Linked DNA regions of Homo sapiens: region 1 is reported to be linked to region 2. Evidence: microRNA targets listed by miRTarBase, many of them from high-throughput screens and not tested one by one. Region 2 holds a microRNA gene; the other region holds the end of a gene's coding sequence.

Region 1 (4,065 bases), not on the chromosome of region 2:
GCCCTCAGGGGCCGGGGTTCCCGGGTAACTTGAGTCACAGAACCTTACATTCATTCCATCCAGATCCTTGTACCCTAGCCCAATTCCTCCGGTTCCCCCAGTTCCCAGGATTCGGGCCTCAAAGGATAAGGAGGTAGGCGGGGAGTGAGGTTGGGGCTCAACCTGAGTGTGGGTGAAGCAGACTGGGATGGGAACCCCAAGATGCCCAATGGTAGAGTGGGACAGCCGACCTCCCACCATGCCCCCAGATTGATAGTTTCGGGACCCGCAGCAGGAGAGGGCCGCTGCAGGGCGTCTGGGCTTCTGGGGGCAGAGAAGACTCACGCAGTGAGCAGTCCGCAAGCCCGCTGGCGGCAGCGGCGGTGCTCCGTCCAGGGCGAGAAGCTGCAGCGCTCGGGCCGGGGTCCCTCCTGTCGCAGCAGCTCCTCGACGAGTGCAGGGGCAGCCACGTACACGGTGCGCACTGTCCCAAAGCTGGCTAGCCACACCGGCCCGAAGTGCGCGGCGCCCTGCACCTGGGGGAGCGGACACAGCGGACACTTGGATACCTGGGCGGGGACTTTCAGCTTGACCTGTGCCCACGCCAAGGGCGTTGACTGGGCTTGGGAATAGGGAGCTTCTGCTCTTTCTCGGGTGCCCAACTAGTGTATGCCTTTGATACTGCAAACTCCTCCTCTCTCATTTCCCATCCCTAGAAAGTTTGAGTGTGATGGGCAAAACCGGAACTTTGTGCAAGGCAGACATTCAGGACCTCTCTGATCATCTCGGTCGAGGAGAAATCTCTAAAAGTTCCATGTCTGGACTGTCCATCTCAGGACGAGTCCTCAGTGAATGAAAAGGAACCCATGTAGCTTTAAGCCGCAAGCAGGCGGAGGGTACTGCCCACTCCGGCCTCCCCCTCCCGCGCACTTGTACTTTATCTGCAGGATCTCCACACCTCAGGACAGCGAGAAGGCGCTTTCGCAGCGCCCTCTGCTAAGAGTCGGGACGGGCTCTGCCCGAGTGTAGCCACACCGCCCCCAGCCTCAACTCGCCTTTTCCTTATTTCATGGGCATCCGTTCTCTCTGGCTGTCCCACATTTGCTCTGCACTAGTCAGTCCTTTCTGACGCTGTCAAAACCAGTTTCCCCAGCACTCTGTCTCGGGAAAGGCGTCCCTTCCTACCTGCAGCTCGTGTAGCCTCGACAGCCCCCCCTTGCAGAAAAGTTCGGCCAGAAAGCTGGGCGTAGAGGGGCCTGGGATGTCTGCCAAGCTCCGGCGTGCTGAGTGGTACTCTCGGTAGCCTAGGGAGGCGCCCAACTCGGGCGCCCAGCGGACGCGATGGAACACTCTGGAGGCGTACTTGAGGGTCTGGGTCATGGTCTGGTTCAGGGTGCTCGCGAAAGAAAGCGCTTCTCCTGAGCATCATATCTCAACCCCTATTTAACCTTTGGGTGAGGTGATGACGCCCCCTCTCCAAGCTCCTCAGCCAATCCCTCCTCCTGAGTGGTCTGTGCTGGGGATTAGCACCCAGGAACAGTAGGCGGGGCTGGGGCTGACTTCACAACTCCCTTGGGTCTCATGTTGCAATGACCCTCATGGGAGGGAGGGCCTAAGATTTTCCTCCTGGGAGAGTGCCTTTGTCTAGGAGCCTCAAAGTCTCATCCTAGGAAAGGCTATAAGGCTTTTTAGTAGGGACTAGGTGACCAAGCTACACTAGTCAGTCTCTGATATTCCCACTTCTACCAGTGAGCCCAGCCCCTTTAGGCCCATCCTCAGGAATTCCCCATCTTTCAGCTCCTCCAGGAAGGGAAGCAGGGGAGGCACAGCTGTAACTGTCCCCACATTCTTGGCTTAGTGGGTTGTATCTTCTCTGCATTATTTTCCTGCACTAGCCACACCTCCCCCTCCTCCTGTACCTAACATATACTGGGCAGATGGCAGGTGGGTTAATGGGCTAAAATGGCTCCTAGAACCTCCATCTTTCTTTCTTGAGGATAAGGGGGTCTCTTGGGTATACAAGCCCCCTCCTTCCAGACATGGGAATTTGGGGCTTGAGAAGCAGAAATGAAACTTTTTGTACATTAGTTAAGTTCAGAGATTGTCTGTGGGGTGTTAGAGGAGCTAAATGGATGTGGATGTTCTAATTCCCCAGCTGACTCGGTCTCCTCTGGGGGGCTTTCTGGTTAGCAGCTCCTTTCTACTTTTAGCCTCAGAATCCTGTGGTGGCTCATGCCTATAATCCCAGCACTTTGGGAGGCTGAGGCAGGAGGATGGCATGAGGCCAGGAGGTTGAGACAAGCTTGAGCAACATAGCAAGACTGTCTCTACAGAAGAAGTTTAAAAATTAGGCTGGGCACGGCAGCTCATGACTGTAATCCCAACACTTTGGGAGGCTAAGGTGGGCAGACTGCTTGAGCTCAGGAGTCTGAGACCAGCCTGGGCAACATAGTGGAACTGTCTCTACAAAAAATACAAAAATTAGCCAGGCATGGTGGCGTATGCCTGTAGTGCCTTGAGAGGCTGAGGTGGATTACATGAGCCCGGGAGGTCAAGGCTGCAGTGAGTTATGATTGTACCACTGCACTCCAGCCTAGGCAACAGAGAGAGGGCCTGTCTCTAAAAAAAATTAAAATAAAAGAATCTCCCACAGTTTACCTCTCTGCTCCTTACTCCCTCATTCCCCACTGCAACTCTATCAGGCTCTGTGCCAGTCAGCTAGCTCTGAAGTTCTGGAATTGAAGGTCAATGTGAAAAAGGAGAGGGTCTCCACCCCCACACCTTCCCAAGGACTCTCCAGAGACAACACTTAGGGAACACAGATTCCCCAGGTCAAGTCTTACGCAGGGAGAGGACAGGAGGATGGTAGAAGGCATATGATACATACTCCACCCTTTCCTGAGAAATGGCAGAATAGGCATGTGTACACATATACATGTTATCCCAGGATCCACAAAGCAAACAGAAGTGGTAATTGAGCCTAGCAAGCAGTTTAGATGGACTACATTCCTCATTCCAGCTGAGGAGAGATCTCACAAGGAGAAAGGAGTGCTAAGGAAGAGCAAGACCCCACAGCCTTCCAAAGATCCCCTATGGTCCAAAGTCCTTTGACCATCTCAGTCAGCTGCTTTGTTTTCTGTTGGCAGTGGAGGGACAAGGTGAGAGGAGCCAGGGGTAGTCATGAACACCAGTGGGTTCTGCCCTGGGCAGCTCCCCACCTTCTTTAAGAGAGTACTGTGTCTCAGCTCCAGCAGTCTCAACTGGGAAGACCCAGGACTCCTGCTCTTTTCTCTAATCCCTGGGAGACGAGGTCCAGCTAAGGTAGAGTAAGCAGTCAGTGACCAGGCAGGCTGGTTTGGGAGGTCACTGCCTGGAGGACGGGATCTTGTATTCTTCGGAAGATGGCTGGGAAATTCTTCCCTCCATTACGTAGAACTTTCTTCCCCTCCTCAGTTGAGGTGCCTAGATGTCCCACAACGGGGTCTTCACTCTGGGAGAAGGAAGGGTCCAATAAGTCCTTGCCCACTGTTCAGACTGCCCCTGGCCCTTAGACACCTATCCCATCCTCCTGGCACTGAGTTAAGTCCAAATACAGAACCACTCTGGAAAGGGCCTCCACCTCCTCTAGGTCCCCTACTCACCAGGTCCTCCAGAGGCACACGCTCAAACAGTGGGTGCTCTTCGAAATGAGTGCACATCCAGTCGTGTAGCTCCAGCACATCGGTTATGGTATACACCAGCCCCTGCATAGGCAAAATCACCCTAGACAGGAGGCTGCATGCAACGTCAGCAGCCAGATGAAGGAAGTGGTGGTGTGAGTCCCTAAATGCACCCCCACTGAATTCTTAGTGAAGGGCCCCTGAGTAGGCCACTCACCCCATCATCCCTCCGATCCCAACTCACCCCAACTCTTAGCACGTAGGCATATTCTGCTAGCAGGGTGGGACTGATGATTCGCCACTTGTGCTTTGTCCGCTTGAAATGTGGGTCGGGGAAGAGGAAGAACATCTTTGTCAGCTGTGAGACAGACACACACCAACAGGGTTGTGAGAGCCTGGCCTCCATGCCCCCACCTGCCTACCAGCC
Region 2 (4,065 bases):
AAGGCTGCCCAGAAAAATTAACAGTTTTTCTCTTGTGAAAACAGACTTCCATGATGTGGGGGTGGGGGCACCCACTGTTATGCCCTTAGAAACATTAAGACCCTCACGTAAAAGGACTAGGAAATTAAGTTTGTAATTAAGAAAAATCAAAGAAAGATAGAGATAACTGCACACTGGGAAAAATAAATACTAGCCTTTGAAATTTACATTGCATGCTGCACCATTACATATTAATACAAACCACCCTAGACTCATGCCTTAGTGCTATATTATTACTAGTTTCCCCTTTAAAATTATGTGTGGAAATTACTATCCTGTTTCATAAAGGTTACTGGCTTGGCCAATTAATACCAGCTCTAATTTTTATTGGATTAAAATACATCACTTCAGATATGTAAACTTTCTTCTATACATTACCACACACAAATCATTTGAGTATATTAAAACTAAAAAATCGACCTACTGCCATCAGAAAGAAGTCTGAGAAATAGCTTCATTTATTTTCAATATTATACCCTAAAAGAAACTTGTACCGACCCTTAAATCCTTATCCTAAACACTTGGCACCAGATGTGTTTCAGAATAATTTTCTAGGTTTTAGTAAGATTATTACGGTTTACATTGTGTTCATTATTGGATATCCTCAATAGGGCTCTTGATTAACATCGCATAATTGAACACTGCCAGCATATTACACGAGTATAGTTTATTATTACTATAAGGTTAACACAATCTACTTGAAATTTACCTACAGCCAGAAAAACATGCTATTTTTCTAGCTAGGAATACAAAAGGGTGCAATTACTACTACCCATAGAAATATTCAGTAGTCCTCATGTGAAAACAGACTTCCATGCTACTAGGGAGGGGGAGAAAAAGAGAAACCACCCACTGTTTTGTTCTTTCTTCCTTAAATAGCATTCGGAGAAATCTAACCTACAAAGGCAGCAGACAGAAAACAAGGTCACAATTTGGCCAACGATGGCATGGGCTTTATCTCCCCTAAATCTTGGTAGTATCCCAGAACGCAGCGTTCTAGTCGCTACCTAGTTAAGAAAAAGGGGTTGACTGTTTTCTGAAGCCACGCCCTAAATGAAGTGTCCCGCATACAGTAAGGACAACAAATTTTAAATGTCCCTACTCGCTTTCCCCCAATCTACTTTAATTGGGGGGAAGGGGACAGGGACATTTAAAATTTGTCTAATTTTACTGATCGATTACAGCCACCATGTTCTAGTACGGTGCTTCAGGACTCAAACGCAAAAGTTTCTCAAAGCCCAAAATTTGGCCAGTGTATACTAGCAGAAAATGATGCCCAAAGTCCACTCAAGTTCTTAATCGGCCTTAAAATGAAACTCCTTTAATAATACCCTCAATTGTATGACTGCGGCTAACCTATAATGGCCCAAATCACCATACCCAGTAAACATTTTCGAATCCCCATCAAGCTCATTTTTCGGGGGGTCGCCTCCAAAGCTTATTCTTATACCACTCACTTCAAAAACAAGAAAAAGAAAAGTGTTCCTCTGTGTTAACAGATGAAAATGACCATTTGACCATTCTAAACCACAAACTAGTAAAAGCTGCATCACCCCGTCAGCGACAGGGAAAGTGTGTCACGGTTGCTAAAGGAAAAAGGACGGCACCAGGTGGGTTTTCCTGGACTGGTTCAAAGAACTGGAACTGAGACCAGCTACTGAACGGCCTAATTACTTCGGCCACGGCCGAGAAAAAAGTGACGGGATGGTCACTCCGCGTCGCCGAGGACCCCATGACCCCCAAGTTGCGCCGGTTCCTACCCAGGTACTAAATGCGGCCCGGTGGGCACTCTTCCCTCACCCTCCGCGCACACCGAACAAAGGCCCAACCGGCCCGGCGCGGCCAGGCACCCAACCATGTCCGACTGCGCGGGGCGCCAGGTGGCCGCGACCCCAAACCCCGGCCCTCGCCCTCCGGCCCCGGGCTCCGCCCCCCAGGCCCCGGCCCCCACCCCCGACCCTACTATGCCTGGGTCGCCCCGCCCGCGGGGGCCCCGGCTGAGGGAGCCGGCTCGGGGTCTAAGAAAGGCGCCCACCGGTACTCGTAGTGTTCGTCGAAGTACTTGTCCGAGTAGTAGATCTGCTTGTGGGCCATCCTGCTGGCGCGCTGCAGAAAATGAAACGAGAGCGCGAAGAGCGGGCGCAGCAGACAAAACCACGTCCAGCCCAGGCAACAACTCGCCGGAGACTAACGACCGCAGTCCCAACGATCCGGATTTGAATCCGACAGCCCGCCGCCGATTGGACAGCAGCGCCGACCAATCACCTTCTGCGGAAGTCGGCCGGCTGCCAGCCTATCGTCGCCGCCGCCTCGCAAAGTCCGCTTCCTGGGTCAGCCAATCAGAGATCTGTTGCGAGGTTGCCCGAGGGAAGATAGGTACGTCACGGGGGTGGCAGGGCCCTTAACGGGCAGGGGCGTGGCCAGAGGAGGGCGAAGTCGGGACGTTAAGGGCCGCAGAGCGCGTGCGCAGGAACGTGGAAAGTTCCAGGACACGGAACCGTTGGGACGGAGGACCTGAAGGTGGAGTGAGGTATCACGGGGTTTGGTGATGACGTAGTCGGTCGAGGCCGGAAGCGTGGGCCACAGGGCTTTGAGCGGAAGCTGTCGACCTTGCACGGTGATGGCGCTCCTCGTGATCCCTTGTATCCCCTCAGGCTCGAGCCAGGAGCCTAGGTCCACTTTGAAAAGTAGTAAAAGGCAGAAAGGTTCTGCGGTGTGAGGGGGAGGGCGGCTTCGTGGTCGGCTGGGTCGGGGGAGCGCCGGGCGGCCGCGGCGTGGCTGTGTCCGGGGCTGCCCTGCGCAGCCGGCCGTTTCGCCGCCTGGTGCACTTGCTGAGCTTCCGGCCTGGCCCGTCGCGGGGCTCCTGGCGCCCCCCTAGACGACTGTGTGGAGAATGGAGCCTGCGGAGCCACGCGTAGAGAGAGGCCCGGAGCCGGCGCGGTGGCGGCGGGCGCCAGTGGTCCCAGCCACTCGGGAGGCCGAGGTGGAGTGTCGCTTGAGCCCAGGAGTTCCAGACAGGCCTGAGCAACAGAGCCAGACCCCGTCTCCACAAAGAAAGAAACAAATGGGCCAGAGACCCAGAATGCTTTCTGTAGCCTAACCTAATGTTCAAAACCAGGGCAGACCCAAGCCATGGAAAGCTTGAGGGAATAAAATAATATTCTGCTGCGGCCAAGAATAACAATGCTAATTCCTGGATAAGGGGATTTAAAATGATGTTTAACAACTTCTGGTCTTTTAATATTGACCCAAGTTTAAAAACATGTTCATATAAAAAAGTTACTGGAAGAAATTTATAAATGTAACTGGTGGTTATTTTTAGATGACAGAATTAAAAGTGATCTTTTTGGTATTTTTTCCACAACGAGCACGTGTCATTTTTATGTTAATTTCATTTTATGCGAAATGCTCCAGCGCAGTACAGGCTAGTGGGTTCAGGGTGGCTGTGACTAAGTAATGTAGATGGGGTACCTTAGACAAAGTTTCCAGACTAGAGGCTGGAAGTAAGAGGTCCGGGTGCCCTTTTCCACACTGCAGACCACGGACTTTTCCGGTTTCTGAACAAGTGAGACAGGCCGGCTAAGGACATTTATAATCTCCATGGGTGAGGGCCCCACCCTCATGACCATCTAATCTTGATTACCTCCCGAAGGCCCCACCTCCTAACTTCCTAATACAATCACTTCTTGGGGGAAGAGGGTGTTTGGAATTCCACCCCCCGCCCTTTTTTTTTTTTGGAGACAGTCTCACTCTGCTGCTCAGGCTGGAGTGCAGTGGTGTGATCTTGGCTCACTGCGACCTCCCCCTCCCAGGTTCAAGCCATTCTGCCTCAGCCTCCAGAGCAGCTGGGATTACAGGCCCAGCTAGTTTTTGTATTTTTAGTAGAAACGGGTTTTCATCATTTTGGCCAGGCTGGTCTCGAACTCCTGACCTCAAGTGAACTGCCCGCCTTGGCCTCGCAAAGTGCTGGGATCGTCAGAGGCAAGTGAACCAGAGCACCTTCATCTTAAACAGGAGCTGGGTAAG

The links. Region 2 holds the annotated microRNA hsa-miR-3153 (GGGGAAAGCGAGUAGGGACAUUU, at 1,130-1,152, opposite strand). A microRNA usually pairs through its seed, bases 2 to 8, with sites in the 3' UTR of a target mRNA and lowers its output. Matches are read on the target gene's strand: a 7mer-m8 pairs with bases 2 to 8, a 7mer-A1 pairs with bases 2 to 7 and ends in A, and an 8mer does both.
Region 1: miRTarBase lists METTL1 as a target of hsa-miR-3153. The part of its 3' UTR that is shown has no 7-base or 8-base seed match.

The regions. Positions count from the first base shown.
Region 1 is chr12:57,765,683-57,769,747 of GRCh38, forward strand. It overlaps METTL1 (methyltransferase 1, tRNA methylguanosine), which reads right to left. Exons shown (of 6, transcript NM_005371.6): 4 at 3,883-3,996; 5 at 3,621-3,722; 6 at 2,789-3,469. The coding sequence ends at 3,314. It overlaps CYP27B1 (cytochrome P450 family 27 subfamily B member 1), which reads right to left and starts at 1,396. Exons shown (of 9, transcript NM_000785.4): 1 at 1,165-1,396; 2 at 325-515. The coding sequence starts at 1,359.
Region 2 is chr9:89,309,361-89,313,425 of GRCh38, reverse strand. It overlaps MIR3153 (microRNA 3153), which reads right to left and starts at 1,201; the gene lies at 1,120-1,201. CKS2 (CDC28 protein kinase regulatory subunit 2) reads right to left here and starts at 2,231. Exons shown (of 3, transcript NM_001827.3): 1 at 2,075-2,231. The coding sequence starts at 2,133. It overlaps LOC105376136 (a long non-coding RNA gene), which reads left to right and starts at 2,624. Exons shown (of 3, transcript XR_930101.4): 1 at 2,624-4,060. RefSeq lists enhancers at 1,676-1,725, 2,396-2,685 and a silencer at 2,696-2,925.